Linked DNA regions of Homo sapiens: region 2 is linked to region 1. The links come from fine-mapping of genetic effects on gene expression. Tissue or cell type: whole blood. Region 1 holds a variant in brackets; the other region holds the start of a gene. All regions are shown on one strand. Distances are from middle to middle.

Evidence for each region. PIP is the estimated chance that this variant, and not a neighbour inherited with it, causes the effect.
Region 2: MRPL18 starts here. The variant in region 1 is fine-mapped to the expression of MRPL18 in whole blood (TOPMed, PIP above 0.99). The same link has a PIP of 0.9 or more in blood mononuclear cells.

Annotation. Positions count from the first base shown.
Region 1 is chr6:159,824,680-159,832,781 of GRCh38, forward strand. No RefSeq gene overlaps it. Among named protein-coding and RNA genes, the nearest start is that of PNLDC1, 28 kb to the left of the region's middle. RefSeq lists an enhancer at 5,826-6,559. The variant G/A (reference allele first, on the strand shown) is at 4,996.
Region 2 is chr6:159,786,186-159,794,273 of GRCh38, forward strand. It overlaps MRPL18 (mitochondrial ribosomal protein L18), which reads left to right and starts at 4,282. Exons shown (of 4, transcript NM_014161.5): 1 at 4,282-4,454; 2 at 4,755-4,941. The coding sequence starts at 4,403. TCP1 (t-complex 1) reads right to left here and starts at 3,417. Exons shown (of 12, transcript NM_030752.3): 1 at 3,220-3,417; 2 at 1,873-1,958; 3 at 1,558-1,686. The coding sequence starts at 3,283. RefSeq lists enhancers at 2,615-3,279, 3,280-3,943, 4,200-4,379, 4,410-4,469.

The DNA.
Region 1 (8,102 bases):
CCTATCTCCACCAAAAAATACAAAAATTAGCTGGAAGCAAGGTGGAGTGGCTCACATCTGTAATCCCAGCACTTTGGGAGGCCGAGGTGGGTGGATCACCTGCAGTCAGGAGTTCGAGACCAGCCTGGCCAACATGGTAAAACCCTGTCTCTACAAAAATACAAAAAATTAGCCAGGCATGGTGGCGGGCACCTGTAATCCCAGCTACTTGAGGGGGCTGAGGCAGGAGAATCACGTGATGAACCCAAGAGGCAGAGGTTGCAATGAGCCGAGATCGCACCATTGCACTCCAGCCTGGGCAACAACAGAGAAACTCCATCTCAAAAATAAATAAATAAATATAAAAATAAAAATTAGCCAGGCGCGGGCATGCCTGTGCTCCCAACTACTCAGGAGGCTGAGGCCGGAGAATCGCTTGAACCCGGGAGGCAAAGGTTGCAGTGAGCCGAGATCGTGCCACTGCATTCCAGCCTGGGCAAGAGAGTGAGACTCTATCTCAAAAAAAAAAAAAAATTATTTGGGAAAATATAACAATCAGGAAACTTCTGAAAAAGATAAGTGACCAAGATGACTTGTCCCACCTGCCGTATGGGAGTACATTGATCCAAGCTGTGCATTTTCTACCATTTTCACATCGTTGAGATTGGGTTATTTCTTACAGTCAATGGTGTGTGTTAATTTAATTGGTGTTTTCTTAATGTGCACAAAATTGGTGCCTTTGTAATTGCATGTTGATGAGACTATGGCGTAAAGTTATAATTAATACATTGTGAGATTGGCATAGTAATAGAATCTAGGTAAGAAATAGACTGAGTGCATCTGGGAATTTTGCTGTGATAAAGGTACCATATTAAATCTGGGACAAAGAGCCGTTTAGAAAAAAAAAGCCAATTCTTTAGTCCTTACACCAAAATAAATTAGACATGTCATATATTTAAGGTTAAGAAAGGCAAATCATATAAAAGGAAATGAAAACGATTTAATCTTGGGATGAAGAAGGGCTTTCTAAGCATGAAACAAAAGCTTCAAGTGGTAATTAAATAGTTGATTGATTTGGTGCAACCATGTCTCATGTTGTCTGAGACATCCTTCACTGGAGAGTGACCACTGTTTTGTGTTCCACTAAGGGATAAATGCTGCCGGGGAGGTTTTTGTCCCTCATCCTAAGATACACCCTGATCTCAAAGATGTTGAAATGGAGGGAAAGTGCGTCTTGGAATGGGTGAAATACAGAAAAATACGCTTACTTACAACCAAAAATCTAAAAACCACCCAAAACTACTTGAACATGGGAAGCAAGCATTGTCACGGTGGGTTAGTTGCAGGACAGTTTTGGCAAAACTGGGGTGGCCTTGCTGCTGCCACTGCAACTGCTACTCTAGTTTTTGGCGGTTTACCCTGAGGGGGTTACGAGGATGCTGCTGGTGGTGGTGGACGAGAGGCAGGAGCCGGCGCTGGGGCCGGGTGGTCTGCAGACTCTCGTCCTCTCCTGCGCCTCCTCACGTCGGTTAGAGCCATCGGCCCTCCTCTGTCCCCTGGTACTTTCAAGTGCTTATCATAATGTAGAGAGGTAGATTTGTGTCCCTAACTCCCCAGTGTGCCTTCCCTACAATGCAGCTTCTCTCCAGAGCGGGGTGCCTCCTGCTCATGTGGGCTGGCAGCACCACTGAGGGCCTGGGGCTGGCCCAGTCCCTGCCCACTGTCTAGTGGGGCGACAGTACACAAGCAATGGCTGTAAAGGTCAGCATGTCCTGGCTAGGGAGGGGCTGGGGCGTCCCCGCCAAGGGCACCTAATCCAGAACAATTCCTAAGGATGAGCGACAGGGAGGATGTTTTTGTCATGAGCACAGGAAAACCACTGTGTTAGTCTGTTCTCCCACTGCTATAAAGAAATACCCAAGACTGGGTAATTTGTAGGAAAAGAGGTTTGATTGGCTCACAGTTCTGCAGGCTGTACAGGAAGTGTGGTGCTAGCATCTGCTTCTGGGGAGGCCTCAGGAAGCTTTTACTCATGACGGAAGGTGAAGCAGGAACAGGCTTCAGATAGTGGATGCAGGAGAAAGAGAGGGGGCGGAAGGGGAAAGTGCCACACACTTCTAAACAACCAGATCTCGGGTGAACTCAGAGCCAGAGCTCACTCATCACCCAAGGGATGGCCCAGGCTGTTCATGAGAACTCTGGCCCCGTGAGCCGGACACCTCCCACTAGACCCCCACCTTCAGCATTGGGGATTATAATTCAACATGAAATTTGAGGGGGGACAAATATCCAAACTGTATCAACCACATACAGTGTGGTCATGAGTACACTGGAAAAACCTGAGAAGGTGCACCCCAAAATGTTAGGGAATGACATTGCTGAGCAATTACTGCACACCCGATGCTGAATAAAGTCCTTTGCAGTTATTAATTCATGTGCTCCTCACAGTAACCTTCCAAGTAAGTACTCTCACTGCCCAGTGACCTTCCAAGTACTGTCACTGTGCCCGCATAGGACGGAGACGCCTGACACCCACAGGGCGGGTGCTTGGCCTTGGCACGCCCCGGCCAGCGGTGGGCAGCTTCTCTTGATGCCACACTGCCTGCAGGGTCATGAGTTATTTCAATTTTCTTTTTTTTTTTTTTTTGTTTTATATTGGAGTTGTCTATCGTGAATATATATGGTGTAATTTCAAACTGGTTTAAAAAAACAAGGCAAGTCGGGCAGCATCCACAGGACTGCAGCTCGTGCCTCAGGCTCAGGCTCAGCCCCGGCGCCTCCTGGCGGAGTGGGGCCCTGGGGCTCTCCCAGGCTGCTCTTTGGCTGCGGCTTCTGTTCCAGCTGCAGCCATGTGGCTCTTGTGTCCCACCTGTCATCTTGAGACTCGTCCAGCTCTTGAAACCACAGTTGGTGCTGAGCTGCTGCAGCACTCCAGGTATGGAGGGAGGAGTGGTTCTCAAAAGACTGTTTCTCTTCTCCATAGGAACAGAGCTATAGAGTATTTGTCCTTTCTTGCACTGCTATAAAGAAATACCTGCCAGGCACGGTGGCTCACACCTGTAATCCCAGCACTTTAGGAGGCCGAGGCATGCAGATTACTTGAGGTCAGGAGTTCGAGACCAGCCTGGCCAACATGGTGAAACCCTGTCTCTACTAAAAATGTAAAAATTAGCAGGCGTGGTGGCATGAGCCTATAATCCCAGCTACTTAGGAGGCTGAGGCAGGAGAATCACTTGAACCCAGGAGGCGGACATTGCAGTGAGCTGCGATCATGCCACTACACTCCAGTCTGGGCGACAGAGTAAGATTCTCTCAAAAAAAAAAAAAAAAAAAGAAAAAAAAATACCTGAGACTGGGTAATTTATAAAGAAAAGAGGTTTGACTCACGGTTCCCTAGACTGTACTGGTAACATGGCTGGGGAGGCCTCAGGAAACAAAATCATGGCAGAAGGCGAAGGGGAAGCCCGCACATCTTACATGGCTGGAGCAGGAGGAAGACAGAAGGGGGAGGTGCCACACTCCTTTAAACAACCAGAGAACTCACTAGCACAAGAGCAGCAGGGGGCCGTTCACCCCCAGGATCCAATCGTCTCCCACCAGGCCCCTCCCCCAACACTGGGGATTCCAATTCCACGTGACACTTAGGTGGGGCAAAGAGCCAAACCATATCAAGCATCATCTGCTGCCTGTTTTTATGGCCAAAGAACTCGAGTGATCTGGATCTTTGGATTGCTGACCTTTAAATAACTCGGACTGTTGTTCTGTGATGGAATCTGGGGGATGGTGGTGGTTGGCAGGAAACACTAATAACCTGTAATCAATCATCTCTCCCCTCTTCTAACACCTGTGATTATTCCTGTGTAGGCAAGAAAAGGTGTACTATATAAGGTATTCTCAGTTATCCTTTAAAAAGACTAATAAAATATGTTAAAATGTTATCTCTCGAGGGGCTCCTGGTGATTTCGAATTTCTTTGTCATATATTTTTCTGTACTATAAAAATCTTGAGTGTGCATCCCTTCAAAACCAGAAATGTACTATTTTTAAAAAATTAGTACATAGAACTTAGCATCTGAGTGATGACAGTTATATTTTAAAAGTGAAATCGGCCATGCGTGGTAGCTCACGCCTGTAATCTCAGCACTTTGGGAGGCCGTGGCAGGTAGATCACCTGAGGTCAGGAGTTCAAGACCAGCTTGGCCAACATGGTGAAACCCCGTATCTACTAAAGAAAAACACAAAAATTAGCTGGGTGTGGTGGTGAGTGCCTGTCATCCCAGCTACTCAGGAGGCTGAAGCAGGAGAATCACTTGAATTCAGGAGGCGGAGGCTGTAGTGAGCTGAGATCGCGCCACTGCTCTCCAACCTGGGCGACGAGTGAAACTCCATCTCAAAAAATAAAAAATGAAAGTGAACTTAAAGGCCAGGCACAGTGGCTCACACATGTAATTCCAGCATTTAGGCTGAGGCAGTTGGATTGCCTGAGCTCAGGAGTTCCATCCCAGGCTGGGCAACATGGCAAAACCCCATCTCTACCAAAAATACAAAAAGTTAGCCGGGCATCATGGTACCCACCTGTGGTCCCAGCTACTCAGGAGAATGAGGTGGGAGGACCACTTGAGCCTGGGAGGTAGAGGTTGCAGTGAGCCAAGATCACGCACCACTGTACTCTAGCCTGACAGAGTGAGACCCTGTCTCCAAAAAAAAAAAAGAAAAGAAAAAAAAAAGTGAACTTAAAGCTGAAAGAAAACGCACAGAAGTCTTGGTGGGGGCTACCCAGAGTAGGTGGACCATATGGTTTTATTTTCTGTATATTTAGGGATCTTTTTACCATTTTTTTTTTTACAATGAGCATGTATTTCTATCACTTTAAACATGAAAATGCATTAAAATTTTTTTGTTGAAAATAGAGCTCTCTTGTCCTGCTTGTGGGGACAGCCCTGTGAAATATCTTTAGTTCTTATTTAATTGCATTTTACTGGACACAGTCATGCCTACTTCTTTACATTAGTTTCCT[G/A]TTTCCTGCTGTAACAAGTCATCACAAATGTAGTGGCTTAAAATAGCACACAATTACCATTTTGCATTTCTGGAGGTTAGAAGTCCAACACAGCTCTCGGGGCTAAAATCAAGAAGTCGGGGCGGAAGGGCTGTGTGCCCTTCCAGAGGCCTCAGAGAGAAGCTGCTTCCTCCCCTTTTCCAGCTTCTAGAGGTCACCAACATTCCCAGGATCGTGGCCCTGTTCCTCCATCTTCAGCAGCAGCAATGTGGAATCTCTCTGATCGATCTTTCTGTAGCTTCGTCTCCTCTGACCACAGCAGGGAATGCTTTGCCATGCTTTAAGACCCATGTGATTAGGCGGACCCTCCTCCTCGGATGACCCTGGATAAACTCCCCATCTCAAAGCCCTTAATTATGTCTGTAGAGTCCCTCTTGCCACATCAGGTGCTATACTCACAGGTTCTGGGGTTAGGCTGTGGGCACTGGGCATCTTTGGGGAGCCATTATTCTGCCTGCCACATTCTCCAGCGACACACTGATGAAGCACCTGCCCAGGTAAGTGCTATTCCTACCTCATACTCCCCAGTGAGTGGGGTTAGCCCTGCGCAGTGAGTGGGGTTAGCCCTGCCCAGGAAGCAGGGTCTGATGCGGCTGAGCTGGTTACAGGCCTTGCAGACTGCGTGGCCACCACGGTGACCCAGCACCCACCATCCACCCAGTCTCCTGCGTCGCTGTTCTGGAAGCTCTGCCGCGGTGCTGGATGGCTTCACCCGATTTCAGCATTCGGAAGCTCCCCTAGAGGTCCCTCATTCTGCCCCATCCCTGCCCCAGCTCTTGCTATTGTTTGCCTTTATCCCTTTTTCCTACAGGAAGAACCAGATTCAAACATTTGCCTGCTGGCAATAGTGTTTCTGAGGAAGACACTGTGAGGGGAACTGCGGGCCGAGCCTGCTCTGAGCGCAAGATAGTAGGAGAGCTCTCTGGCACACAGCTGCCTACTCTGTCCCTACTCTCCCCTGGGAGAGAATCCCTGGTGTAGACTTAGTCCTAATCCTCAGAAGAGCTCCCCCAGTGTGTGATGTGGCTCTGCCAAAGATCGTGAGAAAGTGGAGATCCAAAAACAAGTATTCTCTGGGCAGCACAAGCCAGATAAAGTTGTTCTCAAGTTGGCTCTGGCTGGGTTTGTGGAGGGCACAGAGGCTTTGACATGTGAGCTTGTAAAGATGCTTTCTTTCCCATCCCAGGGAGCTGCCCAAACCTTCCTCGCTGCTGAGGCCGTGTCCTCAGCCCAGTGGAGCAGCAGCAGTGGCCACTGCCTGCGTGACCCTGCTGAGACCTGTGCTCGTAGTCAGATGGGATGTTCTGAACTCCTGGAAGCCAGAGGTTATAGTTTTTTAAAGACTAAAAAAGGAATATTGTATTGTGTAAAACAGAAAAGGAAGGGAAGCACTCATTCTCCCATTCCCTTATTGATCAATTTGGGCTTGTTCCTGTCTCTAAAATCTGCATGTGTTTTATACTGGAAGACCCTGGAGCGCAGGCTTTCATTCCATGCAAATGTACCTGCTCTGTACCAGGCACTGTTCCAGATGCCCCGGCTGCAGCCATTAAAGCAAAGATTCAGGAATTTGCATTTGTGTGGAGTCATTAGACAAGCAACGAGATGAGAGTGCCTGTGAGGTGATCAAGTGCTGGTTACAGAGAAACTTGGAGGAGAAGTCGGGTGCTGCCTTCCAGTGCTCAGGCAGGGTGCGCAGAGAAGGGGATGCCTGAGCAGAGACCTGGCAGAGATCAGGGCTGAGACACCTGCCCGGCTGTGGACAGAGCTCCAGGTGCTGTCTGGCCCAGGGCCCAGTGGAAGCACCTGGCCCTGCAAAGAGGCTCCAGCCACCAGGATGGCTGAGAGAACTTGGGTGGGTGAGGCAGGAGCCAAGGCCAGGGAAGAAGTGGAGGGCCGGTCAGGTGGGGCACAGAAGGCACTGGTGATTGCTTTGACTTCTCAGCAGAGGTGTGAGCCATTGAGGGGCTGCCAGCTCAGGGTGATAAGGTCTGGCTGACTAGGGAAGGAGGAAGGCAAAAGAGGTGGCTGTGGCCCAGTGGGGAGGTGTGCAGGGGCTCTAGATCTGGGTGTATTTTGACAGTGGAGCTGCTATGATGTCCTGACAGAGTGAATGTGGAGTTAAGAGAAAGAGGGGTCAAGAATGATAAAGTTTTGGCCTGAGCCAAGGTGTGGAGTTGAGGTAGAAGGTGGGACTTGACTCCGGAGGCAGGGCTCAGACACCGGGCCAAACTGAGGACTAGCTAAAACAGGTTATAGGGGAAGCAGTTTTCCAGAAAACACACCCATCAGTGTGCCATGTCAGTTTACCATTGCCATGGCGACACCCAAAAATTATTGCGCCTTTCCATGGCAATGACCCAGTGATCAGGAAGTTACCACCCTCATCCTAGAAATTTCTGCATAAACCACCCCCTAATTCATGTATAATTAAAAGTGGGTGTAAATATTAGTGCAGCCCTAAATCTGAGCTGCTCCTCTGGACACACTTCCTGGAGAGTGCCCTGTACCGCAAGGAGCAGTGCCTCTGCTGCTCCTGGATGCTGTGGCTTCAATACAAGTTGCTGTTGAACACCACTGGGTAGCTCTTGAATTCTTTCCTGGGGGAAGCCAAGAACCCTTCCGGGCTAAGTCCCAATTTTGGGCTTCACCTGTCATGCATCAGAGTTGCCATCTGGTTGTATCTAAATTGTTTTATCTCTGTGCCTGTGAATGACACAATGCTGTTGTTTCTCCTTTATTGGGGATTAGGGAAAGCAGAAAGGTGGAAGAAGGAGATGAGAGCCTCATCCAGAGCTGCAGGGCCAGGCTGAGGGCCAGGGTGCCTGGGTTCCCTAACAATGCACACCCCTCCCTTTAAATTTCCTATTTTGTGGGCACAATGGTTCACACCTGTAATCCCAACACTTTGGGAGGCTGAGGCAGGAGGATTGCTTGAGCCCAGGAGTTCGAGATCAGCCTGGGCAACATAAGGAGACTCCATGTCTAAAAATATAATAATAGTAATTTTCTTATTTTGTGTGTTTTATCATATATGCAATATATTAGTACATGGAATACATGTATGT
Region 2 (8,088 bases), 39 kb before region 1:
TCATAAATTCTTGGAAACTGCCACTTTAAGCAAAACAATGGACAGCAATTTCTCAAATACAGTTGTTTATTGTAACGCTGATGGGGGGAGGAAAACTTGTTTTTTTATACATCATCTTTCCTCTTAAAGTCAGTTTCCATGAAGCCACTGTGGATGTTCAGTGAGGTCTTATTGTATTATAAATGCAAATGGCCAAAACTGGGTAGGAGCCAGAAAAATGTTCTAAGAAACTAGTTCAGCAATAAGAAACTAGTTCATCAATACAACCGTAAAAGACAACACATCTATTACCTTTAGAAAAAATGCTCAACAGAAGCTAAACCGAGTGTGACTATTCATATGACCTATATTAAGCTATTATTTTATTTAAAAAAGATAGTTCTTCAAGTTGATAAAACACTAAGAAATATTTTTAAAGCAAAAAGACTGTCAGCTTCTTATGGAAGGAAAACTACATTTGTTAAATCACATTATCGTAAGTTAGACAAAGATCATATTCATATTTTAGGAGTAGATTCCATTCTTTCATGGCTAAAGTTTAATCTAGAAATACATTTTCCCCACAAACTATCTAGTTTCTCCAGAATTAACATCTTTCTCACCAAACAATAGTGTTTCTACTATACCAGCATGCTGGATGATCTATGAAGAGTTTATACTGTGTATCACATTTACTGACTCGGTAAGATCACACTGTCATATCATGATGTATTTATTAATTTCTCACACTCCCATTTTGAATTCCTGAGATTACCTGTCAGGATTTAAAAAATAGAACAGGCTGAGTGCAGCTCATGCGTGTAATCCCAGCACTACAGAGGCCGAGAAGGGAGGATCACTTGAGGCCAGGAGTTCAAGACCAGCCTGGGCAACATAGCGAGACCCTGTCTCTTAAAAAAAAAAAAAAGAGGTTTTTAATTAGTTGCTTGTGGTGGCACATGCCTGCAATCCCAAGCACTCTGGGAGGCTAAGGCAGGAGGATTGCTTGAACCCAGGAGTTCCAGGCTGCAGTGAGATATGACAGCACTGCAGCACTTCAGACTGTGCTACAGATGGTCTCTTAAAAATAATAATATAAAAACATTGTTTCTCCCCCAGATTGGTAACATTTTATCCTCCAAATAATCAGAAAAGTTGAGAGCTTTCCAAGTCTCAAGGGGTGATGGGGGAGGAAACAAGACTTTTGAGAGACCATAAAAAAATCTGTGTGATGTCTGAATACTGCCATAAAAGGAAAAATAAGCCCTCAAAACTTGTGAATACCAACATTTAAAACAATGGGGCTATGTCAAATGAACTCAAATTCTTTCCTACTTAAACTGTACAAACTAGCTGTAACTATCAACTTACAAATTTTGTTTCTGAATCTGTACCTAAGAAGCTTATTTCCCCTCTTAAATGTGTAACTTCTTTTGTTTTTTCTTCTTGCTCAATCTTCTGGGCATTCAGAATATGTAACTTATTTCTGACACAGCACAAATGACCCACTTATGGCTTCAACTTTCTGAAAGTCGGTCGTTTTTAGAAAAATGATCATTCTTTAGCCAGTCTACCTACCACTGAAGTAGTTCCATCTCCAACTTCTTTGTCTTGCAGATCAGCCAGCTCACAAAGAACTTTAGCTGCAGGATGTTCTACCTCCAGTAACTTCAGGATGGTTGCACCATCGTTAGTAATGGTTACATCCTAAGAAATTCGCAGGAAAAAATATGAACCACTTATAGAAATCAACACAGCCCCATTATAATACACGTTCACCTTTAATATCACCTTCCAGTACGTGGATTCTGATAAAGTCAAAGAAAGAACATAGCAAAACACTGAAGATAGTTTTACTTTAAGGAAACTAACACAACAGTTATGTGTACTTACACCAATATCATCCACCAACATTTTATCCAAGCCAACTGGACCAAGAGAACTTTTTACAATATTGGCAATCGAAGCTGCAGCCATAACTGTAGACAATCAATTAAAAATAAAAAAGAAATGAGGATAAGCCACAACTCTGAAAGACAGTAATTTCAGCCTAAAGGTAAATGACATCCAACAGCCCCCGTATTTCCCAAATCTACAAATCTGTGTTAATTATTTAAAAACCACCTACTAAGAGTGTAAATGGGGCCAGACACTGTGGCTCACAGGTGTAATCCCAACACTGCGAGGCCGAGGCAGGAGGATCGCTTGATGCCAGGAGTTTGAGACCCCTTTGGGCAACATAGCGAAACCCATTTCTACAAAAAATAAAAACAAAGCCGGATGCGGCGGCGCGGACCTGTGCTTGGAGAATGCAGTGAGCTATGATGGCACTCTCGTCTGGGCGACAGGTGGGACCCTGTCCCTAAACAAAGCGAGCCTATTTGGCACAGCTTTGATGCGGGGTGGAATCTGATGGCGGGGAAAAAAAAAAAAAGTAATAACCACCAATTTCATGCTCTGCCACTTCGTACAGCTATACCAGCCTTTTCCTTCAGATTCTGCAAGTTTTTTGCTCATTAAAACTCTCTTTATCTGTGAGGAGAGAAATCGGTAGTCAACGGGGAAGGTGGTGACTTTCAGATTTGTTTACGAAAAAAATTAGGAATCTATCAAGAAACAGTAAGCTCTGTAGGTATCCAAAGGCCTGACAGCAAACGCTCTGCTAAGTTAGCGCTGCCGTCTCCTGGGGTCAATGCACTCGAGTGGCGTTTCCTGGGCTAACTCTACTGTAAGAAGCTGTCAACCCGGATACGGCTGGACGCCGGACGCCCGACCTCGACTGCAGCTGCGGGCGGACAGGGCACCGGGCTCATCCGAGGGCGCGCGGATGGACCTACTCTTTTTCTGGTAAATGGTCCTAAAATAAAACCTGGCGTTTAACATGGACACTCAGGGGGTCGCCCTGAAACAAAAGGGGGTGCGAGGCGTGGCCCGCACGTGCGAGCCCGGGAGGCCCGCTTTCCCGCGGAGGGCGCGTTTCCAACGCCGCCCCGGACACCACATCCACGCGTTGCCGGTCTCAAAACCCTGCCGCGCGCGGCGGGGCTCCTCCTCGCTGTGGGAAAAGTGGGGCCACAGCGCCCTGCCCCAGAGAACGGCGGGTGGGCTGGGTCCGGCTGCGGGGCCCCGAGGCCCTTTCTGCGGAGGTAAAGGAGAGAAACGAGGGCAGCCGGGGTCCGGTCGCGGTGGGACTCGGCCCTCCCCGGCCGCAAACCCGACCCAGGCCCGGCCCGCCCTTACCGTTTTGGGAGCGGATCGTTTCCCCAGTGCTGCGGTCACCGAACACGGACAAAGGCCCCTCCATCTTGACGGCAGCGATACACGTCGAATTCTGCTTACACCGCGGGCAACCAGTATCGCGGCCCCTCGGCCGACCGGCGACCACAGCAGTGGCTGCGACGGCGTGGAGCGTACCCGAGCGATGTCCCAGGAGCTACTGGGTAACACACCACCCCACCCGCTTCCCGGCTGCCCCGGCCCGGCCGCGGGGCACGGCGGGAAGGAAAAAGAGGCAGGGACAACAGGGAGAGAAACAGGACTGTGACGGAAGTGAGGCTCCGGGGAAGGGGCGGGGTCGGCATTTTTGTCCAATTAGATAGCCGATGGGAAGGGCGCGAAAGCGGAGAACGGAAGTCGGATGTTGGACCGCTGGGAAGAGGTTGAACCTTCGCCTCAAACGATGTTGCGCAGACGCAGTGGGCCATTCTAGTGCCTTCTAGAAAAGGTTGTAAGAAGGGTGGAGCTTGGAGCTGGGGTGTAACTGGAGGGGCGGGCCCTTCTCCAAGTTAGAGTTGGGGTTCTGAGCGAGTCGTGCGTTTTAGGTTTAGTGTCTTTTCCTTGTCCCTGCTCGGGGAGCGTGAGGCAGATCGGCCGGCTTTGCTCCAGGCCTCAGGAGTGTAAGTTTAAGGGCGCGAACCTGGGTGGGACGGGGCAGTTTTTCCAGCGGGCCATACGGGAAAATTTTTGGTTCGAGGAAGACAACCACCCTTTTTAAGGAGAAAACTGCATCTTGCCCTGCCTTATTCCTACGCGGTGCCCAGGTGGGGTGTGTGTGGACCAGTCGATGACCGCCCAAGCTCTCCGAGTAGAAAACCCAAACATGGTTTTGTGGGGTGTGTGCCTTTGACCCCGGACTTAAGCAACAAGCGTGGTCTTGGGCGTAGCTACGAGGTGGTTGGTGGGCTCCAGGGCCTGCGTGCCCCTCGACGTGAGCGATGATTGGCGATGAAGGATAACAGATCGCCTTCTCGGCCACTCAGTGGCAGGGGACTTGCTACTTCCGGGTCGGTGGCGTCTGGCGTGGAGAGTTTGGGGATCTACAGCAGCCAAAGGCTTGTCCCTGACTTTATATGGCTGCTCCTGGCGAGCGACTGAGTCGTCCGTGAGGAAAAAGAGGCGAGGCTTTTCCGAGATCGTCTCAGCGATGGCGCTTCGGTCGCGGTTTTGGGGGTTGTTCTCGGTTTGCAGGAACCCTGGTAATTAGTCTTGCCCCCCTTCTCCCAGCTCACTCGCCTGGGCTTGCACAGTACATTGGAACGTGCGGGTTCTATTTTGTATTCGACGTGCCGGATCGAAATAGAGCTCGCGGCACTGCGAAGACCACAGTAGGAAGTTAAGGACGGGGTCAGTGCTGACTCCACCCTGTGGGCATACGTATTTTTCGTCCCCTCGGGCCTAAAGATTGGGGGTGTAAAAGCGGATAGACGTTAGAGCGGGTTCGTGCGCTGTCCATATCCGTCATTTTTAAGCCCTGTGCGGTTTTTCCCGTTGCCCAGGGTGCAGGTTCGCAGCCCTGTCAACCAGCTCCGAGCCGGCAGCGAAACCTGAAGTGGACCCTGTGGAAAATGAAGCTGTCGCCCCAGAATTCACCAACCGGAACCCCCGGAACCTGGAGCTTTTATCTGTAGCCAGGAAAGAGCGGGGCTGGCGGACGGTGTTTCCCTCCCGTGAGTTCTGGCACAGGTAATTAAATCTGCTTGTGATTGACAAGGGCAGTGCACCCTACAGACTATTTTCATTCATTCAACTCCAGGCACTCTCCCAGGTAGCTGCCATGCGGCGGGTAGAGGCAGGGTTCGCGGAGGGGCTGGAACAAACAACAAATAGGTGTGATGGGGGCTATTTAAAGAGGATGTTACAGTAGCGGACAGGATACCTGCCTGTCTGAGGTGACATTTAAGAAGGTGAGATCTGAAAGAGGAAGAAGCCTAGTCATCTGCCAGAAAGAGCAGTCCTAGCAAAGGAAACTGCTGGGGTGAGGAACTGAAGGGCTTGTGGATCTGAAGCTCAATGGGCAGAGGATGAATGGCCCAAGATGAACATGGAGGGGTAAGGAGGCGACAGATGATTAGCTTTGTAAGTCAAGATGAGCACTTTAGACTTTCTTTTCATTATAGTGGGAAACTACGAGAGGATTTAAAGCTTGAGCCCGAATTGGTTTTTCAAGATCATTCTGGCTGGGCGCATTGTCTCATGCCTGTAATCCCAGCACTTTAGGGAGCCAGCCGAAGAAGCCGGATCATCTGAGGTCAGGAGTTTGAGACCAACCTGGCCAACATGGTGAAACCCCGTCTCTACTAAAAATATAAAAATTAGAGGGGCGTGGTGGTGCACGCCTGTAATCCCAGCTACTCCAGTGGCTGAGGCACGAGAATCACTTGAACCCAGGAGGCGGAGGTTGCAGTGAGCTGAGCGCCTGGGCGACAGAGCAAAATTCTGTCTCAAAAAAAAAAAAATCATTTTAGCTGCTTTTTGGAAGATTAAATTTTTGAGGGAGCAGGACTTGAAGAAAGACCAGTTAGGAGTCTAGTATGACTTGAGATACTTTGTTATAAAGGTGGTTGTTTAATGAACACTTACATTTGCCAGGAATTATGCTACTTGCTTTATATGTTTTTTCTCATTTAATCCTTAAAATTACATCATGAAGCAGTTATAATTTCCCCCATTTTACAGGATCAAAGAAATTGAGGTTTAGGGAGACATGATTAGTAAGTGCCAGAGCTAAGATTTACATATGTTTTAACTGACCTCAGAGCCAGGACGCTAGGTTATTACCACTATACTACAGCATGTAAGTGTTTATCAGGTTTATCTGCTGCTTATCTGCTTGGTGAGGATTTTTTAGAATTTCTTAAGGACTTCTTAAGTACTATGTAAAGTTGTAAGAGTAAATTGGAAATCATTACTGTGTGATGTATTATTTATTTATTGAACAAGCATCATACCTGTATCACTTGCTAGGCATTGCGTTAGAGGCAGGAGTTACAAAGATAAAGTAGATGTTATCCCTGTCATCAAAAGTCTTAAGTTTCATAGTGGAAAGTGGAATGGGGATAATGATGTGTTACAGTTGCTGTAATACATTTTTACTCATAGAGGAGGGAGTCCAAGAAAGGGAGTAGGCAGTTCACTTTTTAAATAATCTGGATCTTAAGGCTAAAAATCTTTTGAAACACCCAACCTATTACTTTCTTTTTTCTTTGTTTTTGAGACAGGGTCTGGGTCTGTTGCCCAGGCTAGAATGCAGTGGTATGATATCTGCTTACTGCATCCTTGACTTCCCTGGGCTCCAGCAATCTTCCCACCTCAGCCTCCTGAGTGGCTGGGACTAGAGGCGCATGCCATTACTCCCAGCTAATTTGTTTTGTTTTGTTTGAGACAAGCTCTGGCTCTATCACCCAGGCTGGAGTGCAGTGGTACAGTATCAGCTGGCTGCAACCTCTGCCTCCCAGGCTCAAACGATTCTCCCATCTCAGCTTCCTGAGCATCTGGGACTGCAGGCACACACTACCATGGCCGGCTAATTTTTTTCTTTTTCTTTTTTTTTTTTTCTGGTATTTTTTGTAGAGATGGGGTTTTGCTGCTGCCCAGGCTGGTCTCGAGCTCTTGAGCTCGAGAGATCTGCCTGATTCAGCCTCCCAAGGTGCTGGGATTACAGACGTGAGCCACTGCACTCGGCCCCAACGCATTACTTTGATTTAATATTTGGATCATTAAAAATAACTAAAGATGTATTTCCTCATTTTTTCTCTGTCTGCCTTACTCGCAATATTAAAAGTAGAGAATTTCAGAATATTATAGTAGGAAATGACCTTTGACATAATGAATCGGGCCCTTCATTGAACAAATGGTTCAAGTGTCAGCAAACTACGGCCCGTGGGCCAAAGGTAGATTGTGAGCTAAAAACTTGTTTTTACTTTTTTTAAGTTAAAAAAAAAATCAAAAGAATATTTTGTGGCTTGGGAAAATTAAATGAAAATCAAATTTCGTTGCCCAGGTTCTTAGAACCTAGCTGTACCTACTCTCATTTGTTTACGCATCACCTGGCTGTTCTAGCACTACAATGGCTGAGTCGAACAGTTTCAACAGAAGCTATTGGACCTAGAAAGCCTAAAATATTTACTATCTGGCACTTTGTGGAAAAAGATTGTTGACTCCTGGTTTAACAGATTGTGATTTTTGGCCGGGCGCGGTGGCTCACGTTTGTAATCCCAGCACTTTGGGAGGTCGAGGCGGGCGGATCACGAGGTCAGGAGATCAAGACCATCCTGGCTAACACGGTGAAACCCCGTCTCTACTAAAAATACACAAAAAAATTAGCCAGGCGTGGTGGCAGGCACCTGTAGTCCCAGCTACTAGGGAGGCTGAGACAGGAGAGTGGCGTGAACCTGGGAGGCGGAGCTTGCAGTGAGCCGAGATCGCGCCACTGCACTCCAGCCTGGGCAACAGACTGAGACTCCGTCTCAAAAAAAAAAAAAGAGATTGTGATTTTTTACTAGAGCCACCAGGAAAACCAGGAGTAGACTCCATATTTCCAAATCTAATGCCTCTTCTATTTCACATTGAGAATCCTAGTGAGAATCTAATGATTTGGGTGTGTTTTCTTTAACTTAAACTTGACTTTTTAAAGGGTAACATATACGTATGTTATAAAATCCAAAGGGAGTACAGTTTCTTGTGTGTCCTTCTAAAGATTGTCTATGCATATAAGCAAAAACTGTTAAAAACAATAAATCTTAGCATACGATAAACACTTCCGCATCTTTCTTCACCACCACCCTCAACCACCCCAAGCACGCACTTAAAAATACATCTTGGAGATTCTTC